6 separate regions of the Homo sapiens genome follow, and all the other regions are linked to region 4. The links come from fine-mapping of genetic effects on gene expression. A gene starts in region 4. Each other region holds a variant in brackets. All regions are shown on one strand. Distances are between the middles of the regions.

Region 1 (5,076 bases), 38 kb after region 4:
GAGGGCATGTCAGGAAATTATGTTGCTTAGGCAGGCATCCTGGGGCTCTTTTACTAAGATATTTTTATGGCTGGGGTGAGCATTTGCTAACAACTGCTTTAAATGTTCTCTAACCTAGATTACTAAGGTAATGCTCCCAGCCTTCTCAGATCATGCCTAAGAGCTTTACAAGGTGTGGGGTTTATTTTTTAACAGGTGATATACAATTCAAAAGATACAAAAGCTGTGTATAGTAAAAAATCAGTCTCCTTCCACCCACCACCCTGCCACCCTGTTCCACTCATTTCAGGCACCCACTGTGGCCGATTTCTAATGTAACCCTCCACAGATAGCCTATGCACATGAGAATGTATGTATAGTCCTTCTTTGAAAACATAAGTGGGGCCAGGCGCAGTGGCTCATGCCTGTAATCCCAGCACTTTGGAAGGCCGAGGCAGTTGGATTACGTGAGGTCAGGAGTTTGAGACCAGCCTGACCAACATAGTGAAACCTTGTCTCTACTAAAAATGCAAAAATTAGCCGGTAGTGGTGGTGGGTGCCTGTAATCCCAGCTACTCGGGAGGCTGAGGCAGGAGAATTGCTTGAACCAGGGAGGCGGAGGTTGCAATGAGTGGAGACTGTGCCGTTGGAGCAGGATAAAGTATAAAAGGAGAAATGAATTAAAAAAAAATAATTTCCTTATTTATGGCACGGTATCTGGCTTATAGGTGCCTGATGTATGTTGAATAACCGAGTTTTGCTAATTGTTTAACAGGATATGAGGAACTTGCGGCTTGCTTATAAACAGGAAGAACAGAGTAAACTAGGGATATTTGAAAACCTCAACAAACATGCATTTCCTCTTTCTAACGGACAGGTAAATACACCAGAGTAAACCTTTTCTGCATGCATTTGTGGGGGTCCAAATATCCTATGTTTAATTATTCCTTTTTCCAGAGGTTTTTTTTTTTCCTCTCTTTTTTCCTCTGTTGGTGACTAATATTAGAATATTTGAAATTTGTCAGTTCTGGGTAATGCTTAAGAAAAGCTGCTACTTTGTTGCTGTAAAATTTACAGACTAAAATAGGAATCTTAATACACTCAGCTCATATTAGAATGAAAAGCTTTAATATTGGGTATATGATATAAAAAGAAATAGTAACATATGTGTTTTGTGGTTTTTGTGTCCAGGCACTATTTGCATTCAGCTATAAAGAAAAATTTCCAATTAATGGCTGGAAAGTTTATGATCCAGTATCTGAATATAAGAGACAGGTAAAGTATATTGCTTATCAAACTGAAAATAATAGGTTGAGCATCTTTTTCTCTTCTAAAAGGTTAGAAATGATGTGGTGGAGAAGAAACTTTTTCGAACAAGTTATGCACAGGTTTAACTGCTAGCTTATAGGTTCTCCATCTTTCCTTGATTCTCTCTTCTCCCTGTGCCAAACCTTAGACTTTGTCATGTTTGTTCATCCTGTTTCCAGAGGGTGAGTGGGACTCAAGGACAAGGACGGGTTTAAAAACCAAATTTGCCAGATGGTTTTTATTAGATGTTCTGGTAAAGAATTGATGAGTAAGGATCCAAACCACTGACTACAGTTAGATTCGAAGCATGTGGTGTGACTACATCTGTCTGATCCAGTGTTCCCGGGTCTGGGAACTCTTCAGTGCATTGTCAGCTTCAAATTATTCCACTAAGATCTTATTTTCATGACGTTTGTTTCATGACGTTGTCTCTACCTTATATTTGGTATAATGTTTTACGTTACTTATTTTAGACATTCGTAAGAGGTATCTGTGTTTCTAAAGGACTTTTGAGTATATTCTCAAAAATAACAGAGCTCATTATTTATAGAAAATAGGACAAGAAATATATAGAAATGTGATTCTAGCGTATAATTTTCATGTTTTAGTATGGTTTGGATATTCTTATGCTTCTTTAGATTTTTAGAAATGTCTAGGAAATGGGTTTTACCGAATAAATATATATATTGACTTTTAAGTTACAATAAACAATAAATTATAAACGGATTTTAGTTGCAAATAAGAAATGGATGTACTTCATGCTTAGTACTTTTTCAAAGTGTAAAGTCATGCATTTCACCCTCTTCTTCTTTCTCCAACACCTTACAGGGCTTGCCAAATGAGAGTTGGAAAATATCCAAAATAAACAGTAATTATGAGTTCTGTGACACCTACCCTGCCATCATTGTTGTGCCAACTAGTGTAAAAGATGATGACCTTTCAAAAGTGGCAGCTTTTCGAGCAAAAGGCAGAGTCCCTGTAAGTAATAAACATTGTCATTTATATAGGAATATATATTGCGTTAGATCTAATATGGAGAGATTTAAGACAAAAAAGAAACTAGTGAACAAAAATGGAAAGCAGAAAAATAAGCTTATAAACCTGAACATACCTTTGATTCTCAACAAATACCTAATTATATAAACAATCTGTTTGCTATGACTCCCTCTTTTACGATTTCCTATAACTAAGTATAAGGGGAACTTCAGTCATACCCTCAAAAAGTAGTAGAGAATGACAAAGGAGTAGCAACAACAAGTTA[T/G]CATGCTATTGTATTACCAGTTGGCATTGCTGGTTTCACTGAATCATCCTAGAGAAAATGCTTCTTTCTTAGATACTGAGCATGATGCCATAGCTGCGTGGGAGGGACATCATTACAGAAGTAGTAGCAGACAGCTGGGAGTAATGGTTTGAGCCCAGAGTTTGCATCTGTTGTAATCCTGAGTCACTTGGCCACTGGAGGAAAATGAGAGGTGGGGTGGCAGAGTGTCAGATTTTATAAGAGACTGTATATTCACTTTGTCCTTACCCTGCCACGTATATTATTGTTGAGATACAAAGATGTTTTTAAAATTAGGAGACAAGGTAAAATTAGTCAATCAAATTGGAATGGGGCTAGATTTTAGTAATAGTTTGATTTAGGATTTGTTTTTCTTAGAATCATAGAATATTGGGGATGGAAGGGGATTTTTAGAGCTCATGTAGTCAGAATTGTTTCATCCTGACCAAAACATTGAGTCTGATGGCCACTACAATGCTGTGATTGGCCTGCCCACTCTCACTTTTGAAGAAAATATGTATAAGAGACCGTGCTTGAGAAGGGAACTTGTTTTTCCTACCAGGTAATTAGAGCATACATTCTTTAGGAACTGTACTAATATTTATTGCTTAAAAACACTAGGTGTTGTCATGGATTCATCCGGAAAGTCAAGCAACGATTACCCGTTGCAGCCAGCCACTTGTGGGTCCCAATGATAAGCGCTGCAAAGAGGATGAAAAATACTTGCAAACAATAATGGATGCTAACGCACAGTCACACAAGCTTATCATCTTTGATGCTCGACAAAACAGTGTCGCTGATACCAACAAGGTATATTCTTAATAGCACTGCAGAAACACTGGATATTTTCATGTCCTGTCTGTAAATCATTATGCAGTTGGAATAACTCATTGATTTCCTCACCACCTGAAGTTAGAATCATTTGGAGTCCCATAGCTATTCCTCCCTGGTGTATGCTCCTTGGGCTGTGTTTGGTGTCTCACATGGGTTGGGATCTTGTCTGTTTCATTGCTTCTCTACAATATCCTGTCTGCTAAATCAATTAAGTAAAGACCTAGAAAGACAATTATCATCTAAAGGATTTAGCATTTTAATGAAATGATCGTGAGGTCCTTGGAAGTCCGTTTAAGGAATATAGTGGTTAGTTGATTAATTCATGTCTGGTCTGAATTTCTTTTAGAATGGAATCAGCCATGTGAAATGTGTAAATGTACAAAGTTTCCATAAATCTCATGGAGCACCTGTGTAGTGTACCTCGGGTGGCAGTGAGACATGGTTAAAAACACCTCCGTTCCCATGACTTTCATGATATCACACCCTGAGTTTCTCTCGCTCTTCAGCCTGGCCTTCTCCATCTCCTTCACTGATTTCTCTTCCCAGTCTTCAAATGGCATTGCTCCTCGAACTTGGTCTGGGGTCCTCTTTGCTCTACACAGACTCCTGGGGCCATCTCTGATGACACGGCTTTAAACACTGTCTGTATGCTGAGTTCAACTTGAGCTTGACACTGCAGTTTCTCTCCTGTCCTGATCCCTCCTAAGGTTGAGACTGGATTTCTATCCCATTGTATGGTTGACATCTCTGCTTGGCTGTTTCCCAGACCACAAACCCTCCGTATATTCCAACTGGCCTGAGAGGCACGATGGCAAGTTGGTGAGACCCCTTGGCTTTGGAATCAGTTACACCTGGGTTTTCCTCCAGGTTCTGCCACTTGGTGCTCTAGAATCCTGAGCCGGTTACTTAACCTCTCTCTGTGCCTCAGGTTCCTCTTCTGTAAAACAGGAGATAATATCAGTGTCTCATGTCATGGGTTGTGTGAGGATTAAAATTCAGTGAGAAGAATGCATGTAAATGACTTAGCACAGTGGTGAGTGCATCCTCAGGGCACAGTACATGATGCTGATAAGCTCGCCACCCCTGTGGTCAAGGGTGTTGCCCAGGTGTCTGACTTGAGGGTGAATAGTGGTGTCTGTTACTGAGATGGGGAAGACTGGGAGAGGAACAGGGCAGGGAGGAAGATGGGGAAGTATTAGTTTTCTGAGGCTGTCATACAAATTACTACCAATTTGTTGGCTTACAGCACCAGAAATGTATTGATCACAATTCTGGAGGCCAATTCTGCTCCCTCTAAAGGTTCAAGGGGAGAATCTGTTCCTTGCCTCTTCCAGCATGGGGTGGCTGCCCCAGCCTTCCTGGGCTTGCAGCCACATCACTCCAATCTCTTCTTCCGTCATCACATGACCCTCTCTTGCTCTGGGTTTCTGCGTCTCCTCCTTTCTCTTCTAATGACACTTGTGATGACATTTAGGTTCCACCTGAAATAATCCTGGATCCTTAAACACATCTGCAAAGACCCTCTTTTCAATTAATCTTGGAATCCTTAAACACATCTGCAAATCTCAGGATCCTTAAACATCTGCAAAGACCTTCTCTTCAAATAAGGTCACATTCACCATTGCCAGGGATTCGATGTGGATGTCTTTGGCGGGGCCACTTTTCAGCCTACCATA
Region 2 (5,076 bases), 99 kb before region 4:
CTGGTTGCTCTTAATACAGCCTGGCAAAAAGATATTTATAAATATCCACAGTCACCTTGTTGAATTGGATGTGGTTTACCTCCCGCTGACTTTATATGTATCTATCTGTGTCCTAAACTTTGATAAAATAACCAAAGCATTACTTAGTGTTCTGTTGTTGCTGTAATCTTCTTAAGTCTAAATAAATCCTTGCGTTAAAATGGTATTTGTGTATGTTCTGAATAGAATGCTTTCATTTATGCCTGAATTGTGATGAATATGCATTATTTAAATGAAGTATATACTTTCCCTAGAAAATACTGATTAAATCAAATCTTACCAATTTGATTTCAGTCAAATCCATGCCACTCTAAACTGCCATCATTTGGAGAAAACAAAATTCTTAATAGAGAAAATAGTGTGAGTTAAATTGTCCATTCTTTTTTCATTCTGCTCGGCTGCCTCTAAATTATCTTTAAAAAATAAGGAGTATGGAAATTTGAGGCCTGTTGCACAATTAATAAACATTAAGTTTTTTTAGATGGCAATTAGAGCACTACGAATTAAAATTCCTGGAATGTGTATGGCGTCTTCTGCTGAGCTCCCCCTTGTGCATTTAGCTCCCCTTGTCTGTTCTCCCCTAGTCCCCTGCACCTTTATTGGAGCTCTCACATACTGCCTGTGCTCTGGTTCATCGTTTGTATGTCTTATTACCACTGGGGCCTAGTATGGAAATAGAACCTGTAAAGTAGTACCGTTTGCTCTCAGTTGCCATATTTAAGTCTCAGATGTCACATATGTTTGAAATTGCATACAAATTCAGTTGATATTGAATGTTGTGTTTCTTGGTAGAGTTTCCAGGATGGCTTCTGCATCAACTTCTAAATATAATTCACACTCCTTGGAGAATGAGTCTATTAAGAGGGTAAGTTGAATTTTCAGATTTATCTGTCTCTTTCCTTGCATTTATTTTGATATTTGAATATTAGGTCATTTTGGGCTGGCCTATTGAATTATGAATTTTATTATTCATTCACATATAAATACATTTATACATGTGGTTTCTTTATTGTCTCACCTTGTTCTAGAAAAGCTTTTTTTTTTTTTTGGAGACAGAGTCTCGCTCCGTAGCCCAGGTTGGAGTGCAGTGGCAAGATCTCAGCTCACTGCAACCTCCGCCTCCCAGATTCAAGTGATTCTCCTGCCTCAGCCTCCCTAGTAGCTGGGATTACAGGCGTGTGCTACCACACCCGGCTAATTTTTGTATTTTTAGTAGAGACGGGGTTTCGCCATGTTGGCCAGGCTTGTCTTGAACTCCTGACCTCAGGTGATCCACTTGCCTCGGCCTCCCAAAGTGCTGGGATTTACAGGAGTGAGCTACCACGCCGGCCCAGAAAAGCTTTTAGATACAATACCTTATATGTGTTAAGTGAGTTTTACATTTGTAAATCCTTTCACATAACTTCATTTTTGAAAACCTCTGTCTCGTGAAATTACTGCTAGACCTCATGTTTAAGGTACTAGGCAATCCTCCACCTGGAAAGGTTGCTGAAGGACATACTGGAAGGCTAAGGCCTGCTGAGCAGGCTGCTACGCCTTCCTAATTATTGGCATTATTTTCTAATTATGATAAAATTGTTGCATAACCAAAACAAATACAACTTTAACAGAAAATGGTTCAAGGTATCCAGGGGGAGATTGTGTAATTAGAGGGAGATTTTGGAATGTGCATTCAAAGGAAGGGATTAATTTAAAATAAGCTTTATTCATGGCCCTTTAAGGCCCTAAGATTATCCACCAGAAAGGCTAATTTATACTCCCACCAGGTGGATAGAGATGCCTAAGCAATCAGAAGGGAGCAAAAGGTGATCTTTTCATTGGTATTTCTTGATTACTAATGAGGTTAACCTTTTTTAAAAAAGTGTGTTTATGGTCAGGTGAGGTGGCTCATGCTTGTAATCCTAGCACTTTAGGAGGCCAAGGTGGGAGGATCACTTGAGCTCAAGAGTTCGAGACTGGCCTAGGCAACATAGTGAAACCCTGTCTCTACCAAAGATACAAAAAATTAGCCGAGTGTGATGGCGTGCGCCCATAGTTCCAACTACTCAGGAGGCTGAGGTGGGAGATTGTTTGAGCCTGGGAGGCAGAGGTTGCAGTGAGCCGAGATCTCACCACTGCACTCCAGCCTGGGCGACAGAGTGAGATCCTGTCTCAAATAAGTAAATAAAAGTGTGTTTGTTATTAGTTTGCATTTCTCTTGTGAAGTGATTGTTCATGTCCTTTATTTGGCTTTTGGGGATTTTGAGGGGAGTTCTTATTGATTATGTGTTCCGTGTGTGTGTGTATATGTGTATGTGTGTGTATAATTTTTTTTTGAGACAGAGTCTAACTCTGTCCCTCAGGCTGGAGTGCAGTGGTGCAATCCTGGCTCACTGCAACCTCTGCCTCTTGGGTTCAAGTGATTCTCGTGCCTCAGCCTCCCGAGTAGCTGGGATTACAGGTGTGCACCATCACACCTGGCTAATTTTTGTATTTTTAGTAGAGTTGGGGTTTCACCATGTTGGCCATGCTGGTCTTGAACTCCTGGCCTCAAGCTATCCACCTGCCTTAGCCTCCCAAATTGCTGGGATTACAGGCATGGACCACCACACCTGGCTTGTTCCTTATATTTTGATAATCAGCTCTATAATATGTTACAAGTCTTCTTCCTGATTTATTGTTGGCCTTTTAATTGTATTTATGGTATTTTGATTTTGAAATACTGAAGTTTAAAGTTTTTATGTGATCACATATATCAATCTATATTTTCTGTTTTGGGTGCCTACAAGGACCATCCTCATCTCCAAGATTATATGTTTTTATTGTATTTAAGTATTTTTATGTTACCAGAATCAGTTCTAAACACAGGAGTAATTTCAAGAATGTAACTATAAATCCTTTGTGTA[A/G]TGCTGCTCTGGTATAATGTATAGCCTATGTTAATCCCATGTTATCCTGTTTTAATCAGACATTCACTTCCCTTATTTTGTGGTTGACCTAGAACTGTGGTATTTAAAAGGTATACTGAGTATTGCATTTGCTCGTTATGCCTGTTTTTAGTTAGTGAGAGGGAGTGTTAAAGGGTGATAATTTCTTTCCTCTCTTACAATTTATATAAGGTGTGTGGTTTTGCTTCTCATTGAGGAAGGCATTCCTGGCTGAGAACAGTTTGTCTTGCCCAGCTGGTTAAAATGTTTAGCTTGCAAGTACTAGAAAATTTTTTAAATTGGCTAGGAATTTTCATTCTTGCCTCTGAATGAAAAAAAAAAACATTAAAGATTCAGCATAACACCCCTCTTTGACAGCTTATATCTCACCTGAATATACAATTCACATTTCTCTTGTTTCATAATAATTCTCTCCATTTGCATAGCCTCTGATAATTTACAGAAGTGTGCACAGTAGCTCACACCTGTAATCCCAGCACTTTGGAAGGTCAAGGCAGGCAGATCACTTGAGGCCAGGAGTTCAAGACCAGCCTGGCCAACATGGTGAAACCCCGTCTCTACTCAAAATGCAAAAATTAGCTGGGCGTGGTGGCACACACCTGTAGTCCCAGCTACTCAGGAGACCGAGGCATGAGAATCTCTTGAACCTGGGAGCTGGGAGGCAGACGTTGCAGTAAGCCAAGATTGCACCACTGTTGCCTGGCAACAGAGCAAGACTGTCTCAAAAAATAAAAGTGTGCTTGTATATATATTTTTTCACTTAATACTCACAAAACTGCTCTAACGGAAGCATGAGTAACTTCACTTATGAAATGATTGCAGTGTGATTTTGGACAACAAATAGAAAAAAATGAAATACTGCTGAAAAAAACTTTTTGCCCAAACAGATGTTAGTGATGTGCCTCAAATGTCATCAGACTAGCACCTGCAACACATCTTCGTATTAATCCACTAGGGCAGCTGAATAACCTGAAAGACAATGGGTAGCTATGGCAAATTAGGCTCTGCGAACTCGCCTGCAGGTTGTAGTGGTTAATATTACTGTGCCCACCTAGCAGAGCTGTGGAAGTGATTGAATGAGGCACATGCTTGGGAATACCTCTAAAGCCAGGAAGCCTAGAGAAATAGTAAAGTGATGTGAAGAATTTGTACAAATGGCTCCTAAGACTTTTGCCAGCTCAAAAGTTCTCTGACAGACCACTCTTACCTCTTATTAGGACAGGGATCTTAGTAAATGTGAGGAAGTAAAAAGAGAGGAAGGGTCTTAGTGAAATAGGAAACGCAATAGGTAATCAATGATTTTCGGGCATTGTAATAGGATTCTGGCTAATGGCTGTGCTGTTATTCAGTTAAGCCTCTGTGGAATTGAAGTTTTCCTTCCTACTCTTCCCAAAAGATGGCTGAATATGAAAAAAAGAAAGCTGCTACAGTGTATGTGTATCTATAGAACACACTTAATGTTTACTTTTTATCACTTTCCCGAAAGCTGTTAACTTTAAAGTGCTTGGAAATGTAGTTTAAAAATTAATATTATTGAAAAGCATGCTAGCATTATTTAATACTAGAAGTTGACACATCTAATTAATGTTGGTGCCAGATTGTAACTTTTTTGTTTGAATTTTTGTGCCAGTTTTCCCAAATGCTAAATCTCTAATGCTTTTTCTTTAAAAAACATATTTCTAGTGGCTTGTATTCCTAGTTGCTTAAAAACAGTGTGTAAATGTAACGTCATTACTTCTGATGCATCTGTTTTGTTTCTAGACGTCTCGAGATGGAGTCAATCGAGATCTCACTGAGGCTGTTCCTCGACTTCCAGGAGAAACACTAATCACTGGTAAGGACCTGCTGACATAAGATTTGCATAACTTGAGGAGAAGTCTGGCAGGATCAGGTGGCTTCAGTCCCGCTTACTCTTTAGCAGTCAGGCTTAGACAAATAGGCTACCTTTGTTTAGAAGCGTTAACACAGAACTCTCTGCATCCCTTTCTTGATTAAAGAGTTCTTTTGAGAGCTTCATGCTCACAAGGGTAGTGATATTCTTGTGTCTGTACCAAAGACTGAGAATGATTTAGGGGAAAAAAATGTGGATTATCTCTTGAAAGTCTCTCATTGG
Region 3 (5,076 bases), 49 kb before region 4:
GGTCTGTCATAAGTACCTTGGGGTTTTTTTTTTCCCCTAATAAGTAAATGTTTAAAAACAAAGGTTGAAGAAATTAAGACTTAATGTCACCTTGCCTTTTTCAAGTCTAGACATTTTTTTTCCTTAAAAGGATATTTGTGCAAAACTTTTGTATTGTCAGCCTAATATGAATTGTAATTTTTTTTAATTCACTTGTTATACACTTCTAGCCATAAAACCGCAGAAGTGATGCTGTGTTCTCAGTGCACCACCTTAGGAGACATGCTGTTGATTTGTCCCGTTATTAGTGATGTTAACTGTGATTATTCTGCTAAGGCAGTGTCTGTCATGTTTTTCCACTATAGCACTACTATTTTACCCATTAAAATTAATAAATGCTTTATGTAATGATTTTTTTAATTCACTTGCTTCTCCAGTTAGTAGTGTCTGTTCATATCTTCGCGATATAAATTGTACTTGAAAGTATGTTCTTTAGCTCATGTTGTTAGAACATGATGCTAATGAAGCTAGGGTTACAAGTTCAGTCTTCCTGTGCTCTGTTTGGACATGCTCTTCTGTACCATAGCCACAGACTACACCCCTACCCTGGCTGGCTGTCTGTCTTGCTAATGCATGCCTTGCTCACAAGGACAACTGGGCTAGGGTAGCCTGGCTCAGTTTTGTTCATGTATTCATTCAGTTCATATTTATTGAGCATCTACCGTGTCATTTGTGTATGTGGGTGAATTCTATGGGATTTGAAACAGAGAAAATTGAACAACTGTGCCCTTTCTACCATGCTTGGTTGCCATCTTGATCCAGTAGTCCCCATTATTCTGAATGAATGAGTGTCTACTGTAGAGCAGATAGAATTTCTTAACTTTTTATTTAGTCATGTTATTGATCCTTCTTACTTTATCATGGCCACCAATTTGTATTTATTTTTTCTAAAATGGCTTTTATAGGGAAGACTAAGTTCCCCATCACCTCTACATATTTATAGATTTACTATTAGGTACTATTAAGCGTGGTAATATGTTCTTTGCAGTATGCTTTCTAACCACCCGGCTGTTGGCTAAGTCTCAGAGCTTTGCTTCCACCCAGAAAACATATGTGCCTTTAATGTGAAATCATTAATATCTGATAGTTGGTTCTTTTTATAAAACCTCATGTAAAAATACAAAAGGAAGTGACATGAAAGAGATCTTATTTTGCATGTAAATAAGATATAAACTATAATAAAATATTGCTGGGTAGAGAAATAATCAATGTGCATTAAATGTTTCCATTAATGGATATGTATTCTCTTATTCTCAAACAGATTTCTCTTAATTTTATGAGTCTTTAATGTATGAGTAATGCACGTTCATTTTAAGCATTATAAAAAATACTGATAAGCAAAAAGGAGTCTGCCACCTAGTGAGAACCAGTGTTAACACTGTTGGTATATATCCTTTCAGACTTCCTTCTAAGCATATATCTACACACACACACACATATGTATATATATTTGAAAAAAGTGAAATTATTCTATAATTTGTGTCTCAGTCTATAGAAATTATTCTATAATTTGTGTCTTTATCTAGCAATATCTTGTAAACAACTTCCCATGTTGCTAAATATGATCCGCTCATATGCCAGTGTGTAGATGTACCATGATTTAATCAGTTTTCCATTGTGAGACATTCAGCTTCTGCTTAATCTTTTGCTATTGTAAGTAATGCTGTAATAAACATCTTTCAGTGGTTAGATATTTGTGTACTTAATTATCTATGGCTTCTAGATATGAATTTTAATAAGAATAATACAGTGCCATATACTGTAAAAGCACTCATGGTAGTTGACACTGTGAAATGAACATTATTTGTACCTGTTTAGCTCTGTAATAAGCATCCTTTTCAAAAAGTAGTAAGAATCCCCCCTCCTGCAAAGAAATTAAGAGGAGAAACAACTCAGAGGAGTAGCATTTCCTAACATGGCACCACAAAGAGAATAGGGGTCGGGAGGCCATTGCCTATGGCCCGACTGAAATTTACAACTTGATGAGGGTCTTTCTCAATAATAAATAATTTTTATTTTTAATAATTTCTCAAATTATTAAAATAATAAAAAATATTAAAAAATATTTTAATAATTTCTCAAATAATAAATCTTTTAAATGTGTAGCAAATTGCTCCTTTAAAGTGGTCTCATGTCTCTTGTCTCTCTTGATACCAGGGCCATAGAGGGAAAGGAAGGCAGATCTCATATGTGCTGTGCATTATAGATTGGAAGGTGGAGGTTTAGGTCCCACTGGTACCTTCTCCAAGGCTCCCAGTTCTGAGCCTTTGGACTCTTATTAGGCAGGGGCTACAATGGTGTTTTTAATTGATCTCTAGCATGGTGCAAGGACCATATTTGTTCTGAGAATGAATAAATATTACTGTATAATCTTTTCTCAATAACCTGTTGTCATTATAAACACTCATTTTTATAAACATCAATGTTTGTCATTTGCCATCATGGGGTAGGTAACTTCAGAGACATCAGGGAATTTGGTGTTATGTTGAGTGAGCCCACATGATTAAGCTTCTTTCGTTCTTTGTATCTGCATTTTGTAGTTTTTGCTAACTGACTTTCCTGGCTGCTGGGCCTGCCTCTATAAGCTAACACGAGCCAGTGTTTATTGCAGACTTTCTGGGCATTCTTCTTCAGGCCACCGAGCAACCCTATGAGATTATATTATTCTCCCCATTTTATGGAAGAGGAAAGGGAAGCCAGAGAAGCTGCGAGTGAAATGCCTGAGGTTAGAACCACGGCAGAGATGGCACTAGACCCCAAAGTCCACATTGTCGCCCACTGTGCTGCAGTTCTCCAGCTTCCCATTTTTAATAGCTTTATTGAGATCTACTTCACATACCAAACAATTTCCCATCTCAAGTGTACAATTCTGT[C/T]GTTTTTGGTATATTACATTATTAGCTACCTTTTACGTGTATTACTTTTCACATGCTATGAGCTTGGCAACCAGGGAGCAAATGTGCTAGACTTGTGTATAAAGTTAGAGAAGATAGGTTCTGAATCAGGGCTTGATGAGGTCTCCTAGGCATTGGATGTCCACACTGCACTGTGGAGACGAGCAGATCTATGCTCTTTGGGCTGTCCTGAGATCAGTTTTGCTCTGCTCAGGTTTTCTTCCTTCCTGTGTTAGATTCTAGAATTGAGACTGTTGGGAAAATGATCTGTAGACAGAGTTGGTATTATGAGAAACATATTGTACCAGAGACAATTTCCTTTACCTCTCACTTTTTGCCAAAGCTGCTTCTATATGATAACAAATCCAGTGCAAGCTACATAATTAAAATAGGATCAAGCTTTCAATTTCCTTTAAGTGATATAACTATTTTTAGGTAAGCAATTAATTTATATTGGATGTGGTGCTAATTAAGAAAAGACTGGTAATTGTACTTGTTTCTGAGTTATATTATTAAATGCATGTCTCTGGGCACACACACGCAGTGAGATTGCAAGTGAACAAGTATTCTATTTTAGCACAATCAGATTCACTTCTTGATAACCGTCAGTGCTTTACTGTTTTACAGTTTTAATTGTTTGCTTGGAGATTTGCTTTCTTGATAGCTTAAACTTTCTGACTTAACCATAGGTGCTGTCATGGATTCATCCAGAAAATAAGACGGTCATTGTGCGTTGCAGTCAGCCTCTTGTCGGTATGAGTGGGAAACGAAATAAAGATGATGAGAAATATCTCGATGTTATCAGGGAGACTAATAAACAAATTTCTAAACTCACCATTTATGATGCAAGACCCAGCGTAAATGCAGTGGCCAACAAGGTGAGTGGACTTAATGATGTGCTGGACACTTAGCTTACATATGGAGTGCAGTGTTTTCTGTGAATGTTTTTGCCATGATATAGAAACACGTGGGTTTAAATTAATAGTTAAGAAAACCAGTTCTCTTAGACAGAAAGTAGTTTTAATCACAAAACTTAAACAAAATTGAATATATCAAAATCAAATGCAAATAAACTTTAGGTAAATAGGCATGTCTAGACTGTAATGAAATTGGGTTTTGGCCAGGACCTTGGCAGGAAAAAGTTAGATTCTCTTTAAAGCCCTTTCAGCTGTGGATGATCACTCATTGTGTACACTATTGGGGCATCTGTAAGAAGCTATGGGAAGCTGTAATTATTAAAATACTAAATTTGCATGCTTACTCAAACACTCCCTCCCCCATACCCGTATATACTCACATATGTGTATTCTCATTTACATAAGATAATTCAAGAAATGAGTAGGTCCACGTATGTGAGTTTTCCAGGCACAAACATATACACAAAGTTGACCGTTTTCAAAGAAGTCTGTCTCAATTGACTTTTTGCTGTAAGCAGAATATGCTGAATGCACTTAAAATTGATTAGGGTCATCATGAACATCAGTGACTGCATAGTGTTGCCTTCAGAAGCTGCTGCAAGGTGTATGGCTGTTTGCTTGCTCTACTAAATGGCCCCAGATTGATGTGCATTTTACGTTCTATTTCTCCTTTTTGTTGTTTTTCTTTTCCTTCTCCTCCCATCATTGCTGTCACTTTCAAATGCTCACGAGGGGCCTGCCCCAAATTGCTCACTCCCATTCCAGCTTTCAGATTTATTGTTTCTCCTCTGCTGTAAGCTTAAATTTCATCATATTTAATACATTGCTTATCCTGAGGTTATTTGTCTAGCATCTTCAATTATTCAGAACATAAGACAAGAACCAGAAAGCAAAACAAGTTCTTGAGCAGCTCAGATAGGTGCAGCAGCTTCCTAATAGAATCTGTGATATCTGTCTGGACTAGGATGTGTCAGACTGCATGCATGCAGAGCTCAACTCTTCATTATTTGTGCACAGATCTTCTGTCCTACACATTTAATCCTGGGCCACCTCCCCATCCCCATGCATGCTTTTAAACCAGCTATTTGTTACTACGGTTGTTTTTTGGTCCAGAGATGATTTTGAAATTATATGTGAAGCAGTCAGTAAGTTAAATTGACAAGTAAATTAGGAATCGTAAGTGAAACACTCAGGAAATTAAATCTAACTCTAAATATCTTCTTGGATTG
Region 4 (5,076 bases):
GCAGATGCCAGCACAATGCTTCTTGTACGGTCTGCAGAACTGTGAGCCAAAATAAACTTCTTTTCTTTATAAATTACCAGGTCTCTGGTATTCCTTTACAGCAAAGCAAAACAGATTAATATACCTACTAATCCACACCTTTGCCCATAACTGTGCCTTCTGCCTGGAATAACTTGACTCCTTTGCCTCATCAAGGATTTACTCATCTTTAAAGATTCAGTTTTATGTCACCTTTTTGGGGAAGTTTTCCTGACCTCCTCTTCTCCTATGGATTGGGGTAGGTGTTCCACATCCTGTGCAATTGTCCCCATTATAGCACTTGCCAACTTGTAATGTCATTGTTAATTTGTCTGTCCCCTTCACTGGATTGTGAACATCTTAGGCAGGGATATGTCAGATTCATCTCTGTCCTCTAAATCCTAAGTGTACTTAACTGAATTGGAAGTATGACAGTGTCACAGTGAATTCCTCTTTGGCCTAATGTTTCTTAAAGAATATGGTACTTAAAATATGCTTAAAGTTGCACTGTTTTCTTTCTGACAATTCTCAGCACAGCTAAGATGCTTGCAGCTACTTGTAACAAAATACCCAACTAAAAGTGGGTGTCTTAGTGTGCTTAGGCTGCCAAAACAAAATACCATAGACTGGGTGGCTTAAACAACAGAAATTTTCTCACAACTCTGGAGGCTGGAAAGTCCAAGATTAAGTGTCCAGCAGGGACCTAGTAAGGGCTCTGTTCCTGGCTTGCAGATGGCCACCTTCTTGCTGTGTACTCACACGGCCTTTTCTCAGTGTGTGCATGTGAGTGCATGAGATCAAGCTCTCTGGTGACCCTTCTTAAAAAGCACCAGTTCCATCAGACTAGAGCTTGGCCCTCATGACCTAATTGCCTCTCAAAGACCCCATCTCCAAATACCATCACACAGGGAATTAGGGCTTCAACATATGGACTTCAGGGGGATGAAAACATTCAGTCCATAACAGTGGGTTAACCATTTGATTTAATAATTTTAGAAAGCCAGCAACCTGCAGTCGGTGATTCTCCAGTGTGAGATAGGAGCTATTATTGTCTGGGGATCTTCCTTTCCTTCCTCCTAGCCCTCCTCACTCTGTCATCTTCTTACCCCAGGCTCACCTCCTCTTGTGCGTAAGATGGCTGTCGGGGCTTCAGGCATCATATCCTCAAAGTTCAGTTTGAAGTTATTAAGCTGGTGGGGCAGGATGGGTCTGGGATGGGCATGAGTAACTCCCTGTCTGCAGATCTGCCTTTTAACAGTGAGCAAATTGTTCCCTTTATATCTTCTTTTCCAGACCTGGGTCGCAGGCCTCCTGTCTACACCCAGAGCAATCACAGGCAAAGAGGCTTAATCACGAGCCACACACCCACTCCCAACTTAATCAGGGGTGAGGTGAGAGGGGATGAGCTGTTGGATATTCGAACCCAAACAAAATGAGCAAGGAAATAAATCTAGCCCAGAAAGCAAATGTCCTAAATGCCTCACCAAGATATTGGCTTGATGTTCATAGCAGTGATTTTTTAATCAACAGAAGTTAAATGTTACTCTTAACATAAACCATGGGCGGAAGCTCCGAGGGCGGCATCAGAACACTTGGTTGCCCTACAGATGGCAAGGGGGTGGGTTTGTGGCGGGGCGGCGGGGTGCGTATGGAGGGGGAGAGTGGAGGGAAGAATGGGGTGGGGAGGAATTGCTAAAATGCACGGAATTGCTCCTGCTTCAAGATGTCAAGACCGAGGGAGCTTGAGCTGTTCTATACCTTTTCCGGGAAGGACAACTGAGGTGGGAAATCATTTTTGATACTTGAATGTCTTCAAACTTCTTTTTACACCCCACGTCTCTGCAGTCAACCCGGTGTGACTATAGAGTGAAGCACGCTACGCATAATCCGTTTGGGGATTCCGAACCCCAGTGGCTCTGTACGCACCCAGGTCGCTGGAGCAGGAGGTCCCAGATCCCCGCTGTAAGGCTCCGTGGGCGAGCGCCCAGGTGGGGCTGGGCGAGGTGGGGGTTCCCGGCGCCGGCCCCGCGCGCCGCCCTCCCCGCCCCCGCTCCCGCCCCCCGACCCCCGCGCGCGCGGCCTTGTGGGTAACGCGGGGCCGCCAGGTGACAGCTAATGGCGGCGGCCGCCTGAGGCGGGCGGGCGGTATAGAGCGGGCGGCAGGAGGCAAGCAGCGAAACCTTCCCGGCCGCCGCTCCCGTCCCGACGGCGGCTTCCCCAAGGCGGCAGGACTCGGCGCGCCATGGACAGGCCGGCGGCGGCGGCGGCGGCGGGCTGCGAGGGCGGCGGGGGCCCGAACCCGGGGCCGGCGGGCGGCAGGAGGCCTCCTCGGGCCGCGGGGGGCGCCACCGCCGGCTCCCGGCAGCCCAGCGTGGAGACCCTGGACAGGTAAGCGGGGCCCGGGCTGCCCCGGCCTCCCGCGCCCCGACTCCCGAGGGCCCCGCGCGAGGCCAGCCCGCCCCCTCCCCGCGCGCTGCGCAGGGCCTGGCGGTGGCGGGGTGGGCGGCCCCTCTTCATCCCCTCTGGGCCCTCCTCCCCCCCACCCCCGGAAACCTCAGCGCCCCATCCGGGGACTGCTGCCCTCGGACCTGCTGCGGGCCGCGCACCTGGCTCACTTCCGCCCCGAGAGCCCCAGCTCCTGGAACCCCGGGAGGGGCTTCGCAGCTGTCAAACCACTTCCGGCGCCGCCACCTGCTGCCCTTGGCGATCGCTTGGCTGTCCCTGCCCAGGCCACCAATCCTCTTGGGAGGGAGATCCCACCCGGGCTCTCCTCTTCTAGCATCACCTTGCCTCGTGTGGTTTTAAGACCCCAATTCTGCTGTGGCTGCTTAGGGTCTTTGATGGGGGGTTGGGAGTGAGGACGGGGAGATGGGACCCCGCGGGCGTGGGAGCTGGTGCAGATCGAGGCAAAAATCTGAGATGGAAAACGTCCAAACTGCTCAGGAGGCAAGAAAACAGAACCATTTACTTTCAGTTCTTCACACTTTGAGGGAACCAGTTTATTGTTTTCATGAACACACAAGCAAGCCTACTGCTTCTGAGGCAGCTGCAGAACTAAGAGAAATCAGTTAGAAACATAAAGTGACCGTGTCGAACTGGGAGGGGCCACCGCCTCCTCCGACGACAAGAGATGGCCTATCGTGTAACCCGGAACATCCAGTTTTCCCACAACTTGGCCATTTCCCTGACACCAGAGTGCACTCAGGCAGCATGCACTGTTGGAATGTAGCTCAGTCAGTTTTACATGCCCATTCCTGCCTGTCTTGGTCATCCCATTGTGCCAAACTTTTGGGAGTTTCCAAAAGCACAGAAACAAGAAACATTCCCTTCACTTTTGTTTCTACCTCAGTGTAATTACAATATATTTTAATAAATTAATCACCCAAGTGGTTAGTGTCACTGAAAACCAGTCACAGCTAAGACAGCACTTGAAATGGTGAGGACTTCACTCATCTGCAAATATTCAACCACACACGAGGTCTGGGCGATTCAGAGAATAGCACAACACGGCTTTTGCTGCCTTACCATTTTGCTAGACTTACCATCTAGTGGAGAATACAAACCAACCAACAGTGGAAATCGAATGTGATAAATGAGATAGGTGGTAGAGGCGAACACAGAAGTACTCAGGATGGGCATGCATCAGAATCATTTAAGAAGCCAAAGGAGACCAGAATGTGTCACCCCCAAATATGCCTCATCTTCTGGTTTCCTTCAGAGATTTTGATGATCAGGGAAAGCCTGAGAAAGCTGACATTTGAGTAATGCCCCCAAAGAGGCGAGGGATCCAGCCATACAGATACCTGGGGGTGATAGTATTCTAGTCAGAGGCCTGTGCAAAGCCCCTGAGGTGAATGTGAGCCAAGTGTTCCTAGATCAGCGAGGAGACTAGGTGTCACTAGCAGGGAGGGAGCTAGGGAGAGACAAGTAAGGGATGACGTTAGAGAAGTCACAGAGCCAGATGGTGGAGAGCCTCAGAGGCCATGGGGAGCCACTGGGGACTTTGTGCAGAGGAGTGACATCATCTGTTGTAGATTTCAGTAGGCTCTCCATGGTGCTATGTGGACAATAGAGTGAAAGGGGAAGGAGCTGAAGCAGAGACTGTCAGTAGGAGGCTATTGTAGTAAGCCAAGTGAGATGGTGGTCCAGAGTGGAGCGGAGGAGGGGAGAAGTGGTCAGATACTACATGTAATTTGAAGACCTGCAGGGTAGAGCCAATGGGGTTTGCTGAAGATTGGTTGGTTGGTATGAGAGAAGAATCTGGGAGAATTCCAAAATTTTAGCTTGTGGGAAAATTGTGTTGCTGAGATGGAGAAGTCTTTCTAAGGTGGAGCAGGGTTAGAAAATAGCAGGCTCTTCGCTCTGGACATATCAATTTTGAGATGCCAATTATATGTCCCAGAATAGATGTCAAAGATATAGTTGATCTATCTGAGCCTGGAGTTCAGGGTTGTCTGGGCTGGAGATTCAAACTGGGGAGTCATGGGCTTATAGATGAGGCTTAAATTCATGAGGCAGGTGGAGTTCACAGAAGAATGATGGAGGTCTGGAAAAGGGAATTGGGCTAGGAATAGGGCTGGGTGGATTTTCAAGATGCTTACCAGGTAAGAGTGACCCGACATGGTGAGCATTCAGATGTGAGGGGGGAGTGCCGGGTGGACTCCAAGGCAAACCTCAGCTTTCTAGCGTGTGGGGGCCGGATAACTGGCTGTGCTGCGCCCTGAGTTAGGAAACACAGGAGCAGAGTAGGTTGCGGGGCTGAGCGGCTGATGCTGGTTTAGACAGGTTGAATTGGCAGGGTCTCTGGGCCAGACTAGTGGACAGGTCTTGTAGGAACATCAGCATTGAGATCAGGAGAGTCCAGGTTGGAGAAACAGAGCTGGGAGCCTCCAGCCTGTAAGTAGTTATTGACACCAGGAGTATAGAGGGCAATTGCACAGACTACAGAGAAGGGATGGGGGAGGAATCATGGCCTCCTTTCTCAGTTCTGTCAGCTCAACAAGCTCAGATTCACACTTTTCTTTGAAGAGTGACCTCTAGAATGGAACCTGGCTCTAT
Region 5 (5,076 bases), 55 kb after region 4:
GTTAAATGATTGTCATGTTCAGGTTAGGACAAGAAAGTATGAAACACATTTTAGAAAAATTGCATAAAAAGGTTGAACACAAAAAATAATTGCAGTGCTTCTAAAGGGATGAGCACCATTTCGGTGGATGTGAAATAGCTTATTCCTCCCAAATGTGGATTTTTAAACATCTTCAAACTGACCTCCATTCTTTATACTGCTTAGTGCCTGTTTTCATGTCTAAGCCATGTCATTTTTGTGCTTTTATTGGATTTTAAGAAAAGGGGTTTGAATTAGAAGATTTCAGATGCTTCTCACAGCTCTAAGATTCTGTCTGTGAAATGTGTGTATAATTAATTTCTTTTAAAATTACATTGTTAATGCATTAGCACAGACATCCATGACTAGTCTTTATCAGTTCATTAAGAAATGAATGAGATATATAGCAGGTATAAGATGCAGTCATAGGAAAGATTATTTTTAGGTTGCCTACTGTTAAGTAAGCTATGCAGTGTAAAATTGTCAGAAATATCAGAATAAAATGAACTAGTCTGTATGTGAACAAAGAAACTAAGGGAAAAATAATTGAGGGACTCTTTAGAGTCCCAAAGACACTCAATAATATCCATAGTTTAATACAATCCTTACTCCTCTGGGTAGGTTTAATAGTCATTGATATTTTTGTTCCTCAAGAGGTGCAGAATTGGGGCCAGGTGTGGTGGCTCACACCTATAATCTCAGCGACTCAGGAGGCTGAGGTAGAAGGATCGCTTGAGGCCAGGAATTCAAGACCAGCCTGGGCAACATAGTGAGACACCCCATCTCTTCAAAAAAAAAATTAAAAAATTAGCCAGGCATGGTGGTGTGCACCTGTAGTCCCAGTTACTCGGGCGGCTGAGGCAGGAGGATTGCTTGAGTCCAGGAGTTCAAGGTTACAGTGAACTATGATTGTACCAGTGCACTCCAGCCTGGGTGACAGAGTGAGACCCTGTCTCTAAAACAATAAAAAAGGAGGTGCAGAATTTTATTATAGATTACTGTGCTATGTATTTTCGGAAATCGTACTTTTAGGTAAAAGGTACAGTTTCCAGGAGAAGAGGCCAAAACAAACTATGAATTGCAGCGACCTAATCTTTCGTTTATATTACTCCACCTGCTACTGTTTCCTCCAATGAGCTGTTTTTTGAGTTGAGCTTAATGCCATGACACCCCCTGAGTATAAATGGCAGTCTTGACCCAACATGAGTAGGTGGAGCCTTTGTTTTCCAGTTTTCATGGGTGCCAATGGGCTTGGACTGAGCCCTGCCCACTTTGACCTCCCATATCTGGTACCCAGTGACCAGAATAAGGCTTGTTGTCACTGACTCTAGAACACACCTTTCCAAGCTCCCAAATCTACAATGCAGGCTCAGGGGCTAGGAATGAAGACTCATTGTCATAGTCTGTTTGGGCTGCTGTAACAAAATATCATAAATGAGGTGGTTTATAAACAACAGAAATTCTTTCTCACAGTTCTGGAGGTTGGGAAATCCAACATCAAGGCCCCAGCAGATTCAGTGTCTGGTGAGGGCTTGCTTCCTGGTTCATAGATTAGCTGTCTTTTCATTGTAACCTGACATCATGGAAGCAACAAGAGAGCTCTCTTGGGCTTCTTTGAGAAGAGCACTAATCCCATTCACTAGAGCTCTACCCTCATGACCTGATCACTTCCCAAAGGCCCCACTTCCTCATACTACACCTTGGGGATTAGAATTTCAACATAGAAATTTTGGGGGGATACAGATATTCAGTTCATAGCACTTATATGGCTTGAAAATATGTCAATAATTTGCTATCTTTTAGTAAACATTTGTTTTTAAAAGTTTGAGAATTATAAAATATAGGACAAAACCCTGGATCTTTCATTCCTATCCTTGATTTAATAAAGCTTTAGTACACAAAAATGTCATATATTTGCTTACAATTCACAAATTCTGTGGTGCCAATAATTTATGAATAGGGCATAACTAAGCAGCATAGAGAAGTCCTGGGAAAATTGGACATAGTGTGCCTGGCCTGTTAAAAGATAGCTATTTGAGCCGGGCA[C/T]GGTAGCTCATGCCTGTAATCCCAGCACTTTAGGAGGCCGAGATGGGAGGATCACTTGAGATCAGGAGCTCAAGACCAGCCTAGGTAACATAGGGAGACCTTGTCTTTACAAAAAAAAAACAAAAAACAAAAAACAAAAAAAAACTAGCTGGGTTGTGGCAGTAGTCCCAGCTACTTGGCAGGCTGAAGTGGGAGGGATCACTTGAGCCTGGGACGTTGAGGCTGCAGTGAACCACAGTCGCACCACTGCACTCCAGCCTGGGCAACAAAGTGGGACCCTATCTAAATAAATAAATGCATGAATGAGAGAGAGAGAAATAGAGAAAGATAGCCGTTTGAAATGTGAGGCCACTGTCAGAGTTGCGAGGGGCAATCTTAAAGGCTCCAAGAAAGGATGAACCAGTAGATATTGTTAGCATTTCAGCCAGAGACATCACATCATTGATTTAGTTCATCTAAGAACAAGGGTGCCAGTAAGAACCACCAGAATTAGTTTCCAGAGGTTTCTGAAGCAGTAATATTCTGATGGGATTCCTTAGAGGAGAGTTGTGTGTTTCTGAGAGCAATCCTTAAGATGGAGAGAGAAGCAAATCTTAATCCACGGTATCTGAGCATAATTCCTTAAGTCAGCTAATATAATAGCCTGGTGAAGAAAACAGTTTCAGGTGGAGTTTGGACAGTCCTGGATTGACCATTGTTCTAATTGAAAAGCCTGGTGCTAGTCTAGTAGTAAAGCTAAACTAAAAAATAAACTTCTCTACCAGTGATCCTGATGTGATCATTCTGGAGATGTGAAGATTTGTCATGATAGTGTGCACACAGCACTCTGATTGAAGAATAGGTTTTTAAGTAAACCAACTTAAATACAAGCATGCTGGGTAGTACTATTTGGCTTTGCTTCATTGAGTAGGTGATGAATATTTTACTGTGTTTTTACATTAGAGTTCTGGCGCATGGTAGGCACTCAGCACATGCCTGCTGTTAGGGTAATTATTATCACTTCCAGATCATCTCATGGCCACAACACACCAGCTACTGGCTAGAACCTGCTGGCAATAGTAATAGTCTTCACTGGAATTCTGCAAAATCCCATCAAGAATTACCTAAAACAATCAAGACGATCTGTGGTTTTGCTCCCTCACTCTGCCAATATGGTGAATTACAGTAATTGATTTGTTTTGTAACATAGATTTTCATATGTTAAGCCAGGCTTACATTCGTAAAGTAAACCCCACTTGGTCATGTTGTGTTACCTTTTTAAAATGTATTGCCAGGTTCAGCTTGCTCATTTACACTGGTAAGAAGTCAGGCGTGCTGTAATCCCAGCACTTTGGGAGGCTGAGGCGAGTGGATCACGAGGTCAGGAGTTGGAGACCAGCCTGGCCAACATGGTGAAACCCCGTCTCTACTAAAAATACAAAAATTAGTCGGGCGTGGTGGTGCGCACCTGTAATCCCAGCTACTCAGGAGGCTGAGGCAGGAGAATCACTTGAACCCTGGTGGTGGAGGTTGCAGTGAGCCGAGATGGCGCCATGGTGCTATTGCACTCCAGCCTGGGGGACAGAGAGAGACTCCGTCTCAAAAAAAAAAAATTCAGGGGTGTATGGTCATGGAGTTGTCTTTGTAGGAAGGTTCTTAACTAGGAGTTGTTTATTTAATAGATGCAGAGCTATTCGGATTTTCTATTCTTCTTGAGTCACTTTGGGTACATGTTATGACTGGATGTACTGCTCCCCTTACCCCCGACCTGGGATGTGGCTGCAGCGGGGAAGCTGGCACAATAGAGGGCTCCCCTCATTTGTTTCCCTTCTCTCAGGGTCACAGTCCAGTACTGCCTGTTGCCAGTGTCTGAAAACAGTCATTTCTTATATTGTATCCAGCTTGCTAGATGTTTCTGACAGAAGGGTGAGTCTGGGCTCTGTCCTGCCGCCATGGTGAGAAGTGGAAGCTACATAAGCTTTTCTGGGCATTGAGTACAACAAATTTAGTTGCTGCTGGTTGTTTCTCAGCCAGATCTATAAGTTTGGACCTAAAACTGTAGGTAGTTGAACTTTACATGGGCTCAGTCTTCCTTTAAATCTTTGACTATATTCCAAGTTGTAGTTTCGCTGTCTTTCATAAAAAAGTAATATTACTTTTAGAAATTGGACTCTATGACTAAACCTTATTTTTCTCTTCATTTAAGTTTCCTTCAGCATTCGAGTTTAATGAGCTATTCTTGATTACAATTTTGGATCACCTTTATAGCTGTCTTTTTGGGACCTTTTTGTGCAACTGTGAACAGCAGCGATTCAAAGAGGTGAGTATGCTGCATCCTTGTCTGTTGCTTTCCCTGTGGCTCAGGCACCTCTCCTCGGAAGTGCTACTGTAGGAGGGCTGAGGGGAGGGAGGACTGCGCTCTGGTGCTATTGCTGACTGTAAATGCCCTCCCAGGGTTCTGGCCAGCCCCACCGCATGTGTCTAACACAAGCCCCTTCCTTTCTAGGCATGGGGGGCTGGGACCCAGCGAGCCCGTGGCTCTCTCAGGAGTAGATGAGTGCTAGACCCTGGACCTCCTGACTCCGAGTTCATGTAGTCTCCGCTGCACCAACTCCAAAACCGTGGGATTCTGCTTTTCATCCTCTGTGGTGTTGGCCAGATCATACTTGAAGGCCTTGGAAATGGAGTCTGCTGATTAGCCAAAAAGCCCACTTTAGGTAGCAAGCTAACACTTTTTTACATCAAAGTAGTAAAGAAGCAGTTACCAAACTTCTCAGAGTTACATCTCATTTCTTTCTTTTTCCCTCAGTGTGGGATAAAAGAGAAACGTGGTCAAAAGTGAGAAGGCATTGGAAAAAGGCAGCTTAAGGAGTATATGATCCTGTTAATAGACAAGGACCAATGCCTGTGAGCCAAGTATGTTAGGACAGTATAGAATTCAGGAGAAAGCAGTCTGTCAGTAACGCCCGCCTCCCCCTCTCTCAGCAGCCTCCCCACAGTTGACAGTGCCCTCATTCTGTGACCCCACCTGGT
Region 6 (5,076 bases), 65 kb after region 4:
GGGCATGGTTGGTTCTGGGTGGTGAAGAAGACAGATAGAGGCAGCCTGTACCTCCATGGACAGATAACTGTCTGCTGAGACTTTTTTCTTTTTTATTTATTTATTTTTTGAGACGGAGTCTTGCTCGTCACCCAGGCTGGAGTGCAGTGGCATGAGCTTGGCTCACTGCAACCCCTGCCTCCCAGGCTCAAGTGATTCTCCTGCTCTGGCCTCCCAAGTAGCTGGGATTACAGGTGTACAGCACCATGCCTGGCTAATTTTTGTATTTTTAGTAGAGACGGGATTTCACCATGTTGGCCTGGCTGGTCTCAAACTCCTGACCTCAAGTGATCCGCCCGCCTCGGCCTCCCAAAGTGCTGGGATTATGGGTGTGCACCACTGCGCCAGGCCTGAGATTTTTCTTTTGACTTGAATACTCTCAGAGTTTAACTGCAGTCCATCAGGAGCGTGTACCCAGGGCATTGTTTAATAGCATTGCTCTGTCAGCCAATGATACAGAAATCTGCCTTCCTCTCCATCCTCCTGCTCCCTCATCCCTCTCACCTAGGGTCTTCATGATCTCTAGATCGTCTCCACACTCCACTAGCCATGGGGCAGTCTGAACTGCTCATGTTCCTTTTCAGCTGCCTGGCCCTGGAACCTCAAGGATACGTCACTATAGTACCCCGGCCTGCCAGCTGGAAAGCTCCCTCACTGGTGGCCTTAGCTCCATGCTCCATCTGCTGGGTGCGCCCCGCTGCCCCAGGCCGCTGCTTGGCCACTCCTCACTGGATCCTTTGCCCTCTACCACAGACCAGGCTAGTCATCACTTGCCTCTTCTTTCCTAGATGGCTTTCTATTTTGTTCCACAAAGCTTCCACTGCAAATGCTTTTCTCCTCTGGACCCTCTGAGTTGGCCCTGCCACCCTTACGACCTCAGGAGTGTTTTCCAGAACACTGTGATGGGTGCTCATTCAGCCTAGTACTTGTACGCTGGGCCTGGGGAGTTGGGAAGGAGTCCTGGCTGCAGGGGTGCTCCTGCATCCTAGGGTGCCCTTAGCCACATCTCCCCTGTACACGCCCTGCCCCTGCTTGAAGCAGATCCCCCGTGTGAATGAGCCGCCCTTTGTGTCTTCACATGTATGAAAACAACTAGTGTTTGATCACCTCTTTCAGCTCTTCCCAGAGTCTTCCTTGGATAGGAGAGACTTGCATCTGTGTCCCTCTCCCACTAGCCAGGGAGCTGCTGGGACTTGTGCTGCCCTGGAGCCTTTCCCGTTGAGCGCCCTCTTCCCTGCTCACCTAGTGCTCTGGCGGCCCTATGTTGATTGCCCAAACTAGCGTACTTTGAGAAAGAGAGTGGAGGCGCTGCTAATAATCAGTCTGTAGAATTCCCCAAGACACTCGATACTGCACCGGCCTGTTTGCCTGCCTGCTGCCCCTACACACCACAGGCTTTGAAACCACAGGGCCCTCAGGATCTAGCATGGTGTTTGGCAACTAACGGAGACTCGACAGATGTGACTGAATGAACGCATGAGTGAATGAAGAGGTGCGCCCCTCTGCTGCAGGCCAGTTCCCCCTGCACATCTGCTCTCTCCAGCCCCTTGAACCTGCATTTATTCCTTCTCCCTGTGGTGGCTCTTGCCCCTCAGCCTACAGAGGACTCACACCTGCCCACCCTAAACCTGTCCTGTCCCCACTGGCCTCTCCCTCAGGTCTCCCCTCCACACCCAGTCCTCTGGGATATTGGGACAGCTTTCTACCTACTCTCCCCGCCTCAGTCTGCCTTGTGTCCACGCTCCACCTTCCTCCAGAGAGGCCTTTTGCTCCTGCCTAACAGCCCAGACATCACCTTCTGTGGCTGCCCGATGGCTCCAGCTCCCCACGCCCTCTGCCACTTGGCCACCACCTGAGCTCCTGGCATCAACTTAGCTTCCTTCTTCCTCTTTTTAAAAAAATTTACATTTCTGGCCGGGCACAGTAACTTACGCCTGTAATCCTAGCACTTTGGGAGGCCGAGGTGGGCAGATCACGAGGCAGAAGTTTGAGACCAGCCTGACCAACATGGCAAAACCCTGTCTCTACTAAAAATACAAAAATTAGCCAGGTGTGGTGGTGCACGCCTATAATCCCAGCTACTCAGGAGGCCGAGGCAGAAGAATCGCTTGAACCTGGGAGGCGGAGGTTGTAGTGAGCTGAGATGAGATTGCACCACTGCATTCCAGCCTGGGCGACAGAGTGAGACTCCGTCTCAAAAAAAAAAAAAAAAATTACATTTATCTCTCCCTTTAGACTTTGTGCTCTGCAAGACATGTCCCTGCTTGTTATTAATTGATCTTTAAGTTATTAATCTAATAACTGCTTGTCACTAGATTGAATCCTTCCCCAGATGAGAACTGAGTTTGAAGGCGAGCTGTCTTTGAAATGGTCCATGTGCCCAGGAACTATGAGTGAGCGTGAGAGGTTGCTGGTCCCATTAGCATCTTCTTTCCTGGCTTTCAGCCCAAGAAGTCTATGTGCAGGGTGACCTGCTGCCCTGTCACTGGAGTCCAGGTCCAGCACTGTCCTCCTTTCTGACTTCAGGTGCATTATTTGAGATGCT[A/G]AACACAGGGGCCCATCAAGCACTTCTTTCCAGTCAGTGGTCAACTTGGGAACCAAAGCCTACATCCCCCTTCCAGCACCTTCCTCTTCACTGATGTGTATTTCTACTTAGGCATCTTGCTGAGTTATTCTGTCCTGGGTGGCTTCTATTTCATCTATTTTGGCAACAGGGAAGATGGGCTACAGAGTGTCAGAAGTCACTATGTTACTGAAATCACATAGGGTTACCAGGTGATATTCTTGGTGACTCAAAGGCCCGGGTGGTTGGTGGAGTGTCATGAACATTAGCAGAAAATCCAACAGAACCATGCCTGATCTGGAGTGCCTTTGGCTAAACAGAGCCTCTCGATTACTGCAGGAGACCCCCGTACCCCTGCCACGCTCCCCCTTGTGCAGCAGGTTGCAGAGGTGAAGAAATGCTGAACCAGCAGAGAGGGTTAGAGTGGTGTCCCACAGGGGTGCACCCAGGCTCAGATTCTTGCCCGCCGCGTGAGGCAGGTAACAGACCTTTCCTAAAACCTACAAACTGCGCGACAGATCTGTTCCCAGATGTGGTCAGGTTCTCACTCATGTAGGCGAAGCCACCTGCAACATCATGATGATGATGGAAACCACAGCGACAGCGCCTATAACCTGCAGTCCTCTTGTGTGCCAGTGGGTTCTGTACACACATGATCCCAGTTAACGCTCCCAGCAATTCCACGACGTAGAGAATGAGGGAAGGGTCAGAGAAGCAGTGACTTGGTTGAAATCTTGCTGCCCAGTGCGTGTAGTTGTGGAAGGATGCCCCCGACAGGGCCAGATCCCGTCTCTGGCAGTGACTCACCGCCTGATCTGCAGCAGGGTCCTGAGCCTCACGGGGACCTCACAGGGGGTTGCTGAGCAGGAAGTGAATCCATTCCAAGTGCACTGTGCTCGGAGGGTAGTAGGTGTGTGGTCCTGCTTTTTGCATTCTCCCTCCATTGTGCTACACAGAAGAGAGAACCAAAAAAGAGTACATGGGCCGCAGCTTGTTATCCTGTATGCAACAGGCATGTGTCGGACACCTCCTAGGTGTGGGAATGGGGGTGGGGGAGTGCATTGAAGACAGGCAGAGATCAGTGGCTGGTGTGGGTGTCCAGTGACAGGGCCTGAGGAGCCAGGTGAGGCAGAGAGAAGGAGGAAGAGAGGGGAGGGGAGGGAGTGCAGGGGGGTAAACGACAGGGCAGATGCAAGCCTGTTGGGCCTCTTTTCTCTGAGAAGGCAGTGGCTCGATTGGCTGCCGAGAAAGGGGTTCTTTGGGCATCCATCAGAGGATGGCTGGGTGTGGAAGGCCCAGGGGCGTCCTATTTCCTTTGGGACTGTCTTGCCTTATGTCTTGTGATGCTAGTACCCATGCGGCAAACATGACTGGCCCTTAGATGGGAATTTTCTCTAACACAATCCTCTGTTTAAGCCTCCGAGTTTTCTATTCCTTCAGGCATGCCCTTGATTTGTTGCAAATGAAAATATGTGAGTAGGCCAGGCGCGGTGGCTCACGCCTGTAATCCCAGCAGTTTGGGAGGCCAAGGCGGGCAGATCACTTGAGATCAGGAGTTCGAGACTAGCCTGGCCAACATAGTGAAACCTCATCTCTATTAAAAATACAAAAATTAGCCAGACACAGTGGTGGCGGGCGCCTGTAATCCCAGCTGCTCAGGAGGCTGAGGCAGGAGAATCGCTTGAATTCGGGAGGCGGAGGTTGCAGTGAGCTGAGATCGTGCCGCTGCACTCCAGCCTGGGGGAGAGAGTGAGACTGCATTCCGCCTCAAAAAAAAAAAAAAAAAGAAAAAGAAAAGAAATAGGTGAGAAAAGATGCAAACAGCTGGTGAAGAGATGATAGTGGTGCGTTTGAGCAGTGCTGGGTCTGCCCTGGGTGTGTGTCAGTGGTGTATTTCCCTGCGTGTCTTGCTTCTTGCTGAGGTCACATGCCTGTAGATGGATAATGGGAACTTGATTGCAAGGCGTCCCTTGTCTGATCAGAATTAAATGATCCTACAGACAGGAAAACGCATGCCAGATGGGTCCTAAGGGTAAGAGAGGAGCTGGTGCCACCTCCCAGAGGCCTGTGGGATCTGCCTTTGCCATCACACTCCACTCCTGTCCCCTCTGTTCTTCCTGTGGCCTGCCCAAGGGGGTCATTTCTTCTCAGCCCACTGGGTGCTGGTTACTGAGCACCTTGTTATTAGAGGGACCTGGCTGCCCCCTTGCGGTCTCGCTCTCATCCTCCTTCCGTCTCCCCCTTCCCTCCAGGAGGGCTGATCACCATTGGCACACACGGTGGAACAGCTCAGTCTTTGAGGGAGTGGGGGAAGGACCTGGTGAAAGATGAGCCAGAGGGCCAGGCTGGGGCCAGACTGCAGAGGGCCTCGAGGCCCCTCTCAGGGCAGGGGGAAGAAGTCCCTGGAAGGTGTTAAGTGGCCAGTCACATGGCCTGGCTGAGGCTTAGGAGCCAGCCCTGTGGCTGCTGTTTAC

Alleles and levels. Positions count from the first base shown, and alleles are read on the strand shown. Sizes are in standard deviations (SD) of each study's normalised expression. Not every link is listed here.
For the expression in cerebellum of the gene that starts at base 2,126 in region 4, T is the high allele of the variant in region 1 and G is the other (small effect, 0.23 SD a copy in GTEx).
As copies of A replace G in region 6, the expression in fibroblasts of the gene that starts at base 2,126 in region 4 goes down (small effect, 0.21 SD a copy in GTEx).

The links.
Region 1: its variant is fine-mapped to the expression of MTMR1 in cerebellum (GTEx, PIP 0.95).
Region 2: its variant is fine-mapped to the expression of MTMR1 in whole blood (TOPMed, PIP 0.95).
Region 3: its variant is fine-mapped to the expression of MTMR1 in T cells (TOPMed, PIP 0.93).
Region 5: its variant is fine-mapped to the expression of MTMR1 in tibial nerve (GTEx, PIP 0.97). The same link has a PIP of 0.9 or more in pancreas.
Region 6: its variant is fine-mapped to the expression of MTMR1 in fibroblasts (GTEx, PIP above 0.99). The same link has a PIP of 0.9 or more in unexposed skin.

The regions. Positions count from the first base shown.
Region 1 is chrX:150,729,355-150,734,430 of GRCh38, forward strand. MTMR1 (myotubularin related protein 1) reads left to right here. Exons shown (of 16, transcript NM_001306144.3): 7 at 755-856; 8 at 1,171-1,254; 9 at 2,116-2,265; 10 at 3,188-3,376. Among named protein-coding and RNA genes, the nearest start is that of MTMR1, 38 kb to the left of the region's middle. The variant T/G (reference allele first, on the strand shown) is at 2,549.
Region 2 is chrX:150,591,774-150,596,849 of GRCh38, forward strand. It overlaps MTM1 (myotubularin 1), which reads left to right. Exons shown (of 15, transcript NM_000252.3): 2 at 832-904; 3 at 4,725-4,797. The coding sequence starts at 842. Among named protein-coding and RNA genes, the nearest start is that of MTM1, 26 kb to the left of the region's middle. The variant A/G (reference allele first, on the strand shown) is at 2,925.
Region 3 is chrX:150,642,064-150,647,139 of GRCh38, forward strand. It overlaps MTM1 (myotubularin 1), which reads left to right. Exons shown (of 15, transcript NM_000252.3): 9 at 3,620-3,808. Among named protein-coding and RNA genes, the nearest start is that of MTMR1, 49 kb to the right of the region's middle. The variant C/T (reference allele first, on the strand shown) is at 2,913.
Region 4 is chrX:150,691,271-150,696,346 of GRCh38, forward strand. It overlaps MTMR1 (myotubularin related protein 1), which reads left to right and starts at 2,126. Exons shown (of 16, transcript NM_001306144.3): 1 at 2,126-2,406. The coding sequence starts at 2,261. RefSeq lists silencers at 2,057-2,126, 2,437-2,576 and enhancers at 3,470-3,569, 3,590-3,669.
Region 5 is chrX:150,746,481-150,751,556 of GRCh38, forward strand. It overlaps MTMR1 (myotubularin related protein 1), which reads left to right. Exons shown (of 16, transcript NM_001306144.3): 14 at 4,250-4,363. Among named protein-coding and RNA genes, the nearest start is that of MTMR1, 56 kb to the left of the region's middle. The variant C/T (reference allele first, on the strand shown) is at 2,065.
Region 6 is chrX:150,756,561-150,761,636 of GRCh38, forward strand. All of the region lies in intron 15 of MTMR1 (myotubularin related protein 1), which reads left to right. Among named protein-coding and RNA genes, the nearest start is that of MTMR1, 66 kb to the left of the region's middle. The variant A/G (reference allele first, on the strand shown) is at 2,585.